Linked DNA regions of Homo sapiens: region 2 is linked to region 1. A link means that fine-mapping ties the variant in region 1 to the expression of a gene that starts in the linked region. Tissue or cell type: whole blood. Region 1 holds a variant in brackets; the other region holds the start of a gene. All regions are shown on one strand. Distances are from middle to middle.

The links. PIP is the estimated chance that this variant, and not a neighbour inherited with it, causes the effect.
Region 2: it holds the start of SPOUT1, and the variant in region 1 is fine-mapped to the expression of SPOUT1 in whole blood (TOPMed, PIP 0.98).

The regions. Positions count from the first base shown.
Region 1 is chr9:128,982,533-128,985,287 of GRCh38, forward strand. NUP188 (nucleoporin 188) reads left to right here. Exons shown (of 44, transcript NM_015354.3): 16 at 17-169; 17 at 370-496; 18 at 761-848; 19 at 942-1,018; 20 at 2,368-2,482. Among named protein-coding and RNA genes, the nearest start is that of NUP188, 36 kb to the left of the region's middle. The variant G/A (reference allele first, on the strand shown) is at 1,245.
Region 2 is chr9:128,828,534-128,831,033 of GRCh38, forward strand. SPOUT1 (SPOUT domain containing methyltransferase 1) reads right to left here and starts at 1,261. Exons shown (of 12, transcript NM_016390.4): 1 at 1,212-1,261; 2 at 577-622; 3 at 202-327. The coding sequence starts at 1,247. It overlaps KYAT1-SPOUT1 (KYAT1-SPOUT1 readthrough), which reads right to left. Exons shown (of 25, transcript NR_182311.1): 14 at 1,212-1,472; 15 at 577-622; 16 at 202-327. RefSeq lists enhancers at 1-655, 1,453-1,512 and silencers at 993-1,172, 1,989-2,212.

The DNA of each region.
Region 1 (2,755 bases):
TATCTTTCTCTCTCAGGGGGTCAAACCAACCTTCGCATACCTCAAGGCACTGTGGGCCAAGTAATGTTGGATGATAGGGCATACCTGGTACGCTGGGAATACTCCTATAGCAGCTGGACCCTCTTTACCTGCGAGATTGAAATGTTGCTTCATGTTGTTTCAACTGCAGGTAAGGTCAGCTTTCGGAAACATCACCTACGAGGAGGAAAAGTGGATATGCTTGGAGGATTTAGAAAATAGAATATCTACATAAAATTTAGAACCATCAAGATTGTGATTTGTCTGATTTGTGTATCTGGGTCTCAGAGACTGTTCAGTGATCTTAAAGGGGTTGTTTGCCGTGAGGTCACAGGCTGTCTTTCTTCTCAGATGTGATTCAGCACTGCCAGCGAGTCAAACCCATCATTGATCTCGTCCATAAGGTCATCAGTACAGACCTGTCGATAGCAGACTGTCTCCTGCCCATCACATCTCGCATCTACATGCTGCTGCAGCGGTGAGTCTGTCTTGGCTGACCCTCAGCTGCCCAGTAGAGATCTCAGCACTTGTGCCCTCAGTTTGCAGGAACCTGGACACATACCCACTGGGTTAAAGTTCGCGCATATTCCTTGGTTTTCCTGTTTTTATATCTGTGAGGGTTTTCCTGTTTTTATATGTCTGCTGAGGGGAGAGACTGGGGAGAGAGAAGTGGAAAAATGTTTGTGAGGGAACCAGTTGTATTATTTGCTTTATTGAGTATAGTGTATTGTTCTCCAACCAGGTTAACGACAGTGATCTCCCCACCTGTGGATGTCATTGCTTCTTGTGTCAACTGCTTAACTGTTTTGGCTGCCCGCAATCCAGCAAAGGTGAGATGCCAGATCTTCCCAAGAGCCAAAAATGTAGCACTTGGCACATACCTGAAGATATGTGGGCATTTAACTCTTCCTTTTCCTTCTCAGGTCTGGACTGATCTTCGTCACACAGGTTTTTTACCATTTGTGGCCCATCCTGTCTCCAGCCTGAGTCAGATGATTAGGTGAGCCAAGTCCTAGGGTGGTGGGCCATATTCCCTAGTGAGAACCACATATGTCTCAGATCTAGCCTAGGTTTATTAATTTTATTTTTATGTATTTGTTTGTTTATTTTTTTGAGATGGAGTCTCACTCTGTTGCCCAGGCTGGAGTGCAGTGGTGCAGCCTCCGCCTCCCATGTTCAAGCAGTTGTTGTGTTTCAGCCTCCCGAGTAGCTGGGATTATAGGCTC[G/A]AGCCACCACGCCCAGCTAATTTTTGTATTATTTATGTATTTATTTACTTTTTTTATTTTTTGAGATGGAGTTTCGCTCTGTTACCGAGGCCAGAGTGCAGTGGCACGATCTAAGCTCACTGCAGCCTCTGCCTCCCGGGTTCAAGCAATTCTCCCACCTCAGCCTCCCCGGTAGCCAGGATTACAGATGTGCGGCACCACGCCCGGCTAATTTTTTGTATTTTTAATAGAGACGAGGTCTTACCATGTTGGTCTGACTCGTCTGGAACTCCTGGTCTCAAGTGATCTGCCCGCCTTAGCCTCTCAAAGTGCTGGGATTATAGGCGTGAGCCACCGCGCCTGGCCTGATTTTTTTTTTTTTTTTTTTGAGATGGAGTTGCGCTCTTGTTGCCCCGGCTGGAGTGCAATGGCGTGATCTTGGCTCACCACAACCTCCGCCTCCCAGGTTCAAGTGATTCTCCTGCCTCAGCCTCCCAAGTAGCTGGGATTACAGGCATTCACCACCACGCCCCGGTAATTTTGCATTTTTGGTAGAGATAGTGTTTCACCGTGTTGGCCAGGCTGGTCTCGAACTCCTGACCTCAACTGATCCGCCTGCCTTGGCCTCCCAAAGTGCTGGGATTACAGGCATGAGCCATGGTGCCCGGCCGAGAGCAAGAGAGATTTCTTATCCAACATCAATCACGTTAGTATGTGAGCATTTACTTTCCAGCCCAGAAAATCCAGAGGTTTCTAGATTCAGGGACTTGGTGTCCCGTTATTAAGCCACAATCACTCTGTACTTTTTCTCATTTCATGGGTTCTCGAGCTCAGCCAGTAGACCACTTACCAGTACACAGGCTCCATCTTACTACCTGAGCATTCTCGCCTTGCTGTCTCTTGACAAAAATGTTTCCCTGATGTTCCTTTGATTTTTTTACTTTCAATCTAGGTTTTACATCAATAAAACATGTTCTTAATGTTTACCCTGGGTACAGAACTGTCTTGATTGGATTATTTCCACTGGAGAGCTTTTCTATTTTATATTCAAGTCATCTAGACTATAACAAGAATGCTCTATGATTAGTTTCTTGAAACCTTGAAATTTCCCTATCATTTTTTTTCCCTCTACTTCTTTTTCCAGTGCGGAAGGGATGAATGCTGGAGGGTACGGAAACCTCTTGATGAACAGTGAACAGCCTCAGGGCGAGTATGGGGTTACTATTGCCTTTCTGCGCTTGATCACCACCCTTGTCAAGGTACAGTCTGATTTTGTTCACAAAGGGCAGAAAAAGAAAAGGTCCAGTCTTGTCAGATGACTCTGAAATAGTTTCCCTGGCCCCTGGTGCTGTAATCTTCTTGTCTGTAGGCAGAATAGTCATCTTGAAGTTACAGTGACAACAGTTTCTATGTATTGAGTACCTAGTATGTGCCAGTTATGTACTCTATTAGGTGCTTAATTATGTGAATTTATTTAATGATTGGAAGGTTTATGAAGTAGAATGGAAGAGGCCAAAAGGGTATTGCAGTTA
Region 2 (2,500 bases), 150 kb before region 1:
AGGCTTGAAATTTACCTAAGCAGGAGGTCAGAACTCAGTTTGCTGGCTCCCTCCCTTCTCTGGGCCTCAGTTTCTCCATCAGGACAAGATGTTTGGACCTACTGGTCTGTAAAGGCCCTTTCAGATAAGACATCTCTGCTCTGCCTGCAGGACAACTACCGTGGGCCACAACCTGTGGCCCTCCCCAAGACCCCAGCTCACCGCGGTCCTCCTTCTCTGCCGCTGCCTCCTCCTCTTCCAGGCGCTTTGCCTGTTCCTCCTGTGCCCGCTGCCGCTCCAGTTTTTTCATCAGCTTGAGATCCTTCCATTTTTTTTTCTCCTCTTTCTCTGGATAAAAGAACATCCTAATTGGCCAAGGAGACAGTTCCCACTCATTGGGTCAGCCTGGACTCTGGAGAGCTGCTGGGTGAGCAGCCAGAGGGCAGCAAGGGAGCCTCCCCAGGGCTCCCGGCCCCTGCCTCCCCACTTTGTGTGCTGCAGGACCCAGAGGGAACAAAGTTGGTGTCTTTCTCCAGGGTTTGACTGAGCACTGGTGGAGTGGCCTATGGGAAGATACTCTTACCCACCCTTACTTACTCTGTTGCTTCCATTTTCGCCACTCAATCCTTTGGCCGTGTTCACCCTGGAGAAGGAGTGGTAGGAGGATTATGAGTGTGAGGCTGATGGTCACACCTGGAGGGGGTCCGTTTGCTGCACCATAGCCAGCCCCTCCACACGGGGCGGCAAGGAAGCCAAGGAACCTCTGCGAACTGCTGCCCCAGAAAGCGGCAGGAGGGCAGGGACCCGCTGTATCCCCAGCGCCTGGGACCCAGCCTGGCACACAGAAAGCACTCAAGAAACTGTCGAATGAGTTCCCACAAAACAGAAGAGAAAACTGAGGCTCAGGGTACAGCACTGCCCACAGTCGCCCTGGAAGTCAGAAAAGGGCTCCAGAAGCCACGAAAGGGCTCCGGATTCAGCATCCGGAGGCGAGCAGGGTCCCGCCTCCGTAATCCAGCGGGGGCCAGGGAGCCGCAGGGGGTTCCGGAGAGGACACGGGCGCTGTTCCCATCCTGCTGAGGCTCACGCGGCACCTTCGGGGGCTTCCGGCCTGGGATCAGCGGGAAGCAGGCAGCAGGAGGCGCGGCCCGGCCCCGGCGAAGGCCCCCACGCCACTGGTTCTCACGCCTCCACCATGCTGCCCTGCACGGGGTCCCGCCGCCCGCACTTACCGGGCCGCACGGCCGCTTCCTGCCGCGCTCCGCCATGTTCCGCACACACCGTCGGTCCCGCCTCTGCCAATGAGACTCGCCTCTTCCGGCCACACCTCCATTAAGCTGTCCAATCGGAGAGCCAATATCGCCCAGGGGCGTGGCCTGGGCGCCCGACGGGCTGCAGGGGTACGCGGGCTGGAGTAGGTTGGGCAGAGTAGGTGTCCAAATAGGCGGCATCGCGGGTACTGTGCTGAATTTTGGATGGCTCGGAGCCCCCCTCTGAGTTGGGACAAATACAACACTCAGACCTCTGAGTAGTTCACTTGTTTAAAAATAATTTTTTTTGAGACAGGGTCTCGCTATGTTGCCGAGGCTGGAGTGCAGTGGAGCAATTCTAGCTCACTGCAGGCTTGAGCTCCTGGGCTCAAGGGATCCTCCCACCTTAGCCTCCCGAGTAGCTGGAACCACAGGTGCGCAGCACCACGCCTAGCTCCTGGAAGGCTTTATACATGGGGACCCTGGGGCCTTGAGCTGTAGTGTGATTCAGAGCTGAAAATGAGATAATTTACTCCAGGTTTCTTATAGATTCGTTCACGTACTCTTTCTTTTTTTTGAGACAGAGTCTCGATTCATTGCCCAGGCTGGAGTGCAATGGCGCGATCTCGGCTCACTGCAACCTCCACCTCCTGGGTTCAAGCAATTCTCCTGCCTCAGCCTTTCAAGAAGCTGGGATTACAGGAGCGTGCCACCATGCCCAGCAAATTTTTTTGTGTGTGTTTTTAGTAGAGATGGTGTTGATGTTGGCCCCGTGTTGGCCAGCCTGGTTGAACTCCTGACCATAAGTGATCCTCCAGCCTCGGCCTCCCAAAGGGCTGGGATTACAGGCGTGACCCACTGCACCCGGCCTTTTTTTTTTTTTTTTTTTTTTTTTTTTTTTTTTTTTGAGACAGAGTTTCGCTTTTCTTGCCCAGGCTGGAGTGCAATGGCTCGATCTCAGCTCACAGGAACCTCCAACTCCTGGGTTCAAGCGATTCTCCTGCCTTAGCCTCCCGAGTAGCTGGGATTACAGGCATGCACCACCACGCCTGGCTGATTTTGTATTTTTAGTAGAGATGGAGTTTCTCTATGTTGGTCAGGCTGGTCTCGAACTCTTGACCTCAGGTGATCCGCCCACCTCGGCTTCCCAAAATGCTGGGATTACAGGCATGAGCCACCACGCCCGGCCTCGTTCTCTTTTAATTAACAGACTATATTAGTTGGGACTACAAGTGTGAGCCACCATGCCCGACTAATTTTTTTTTTTCTTT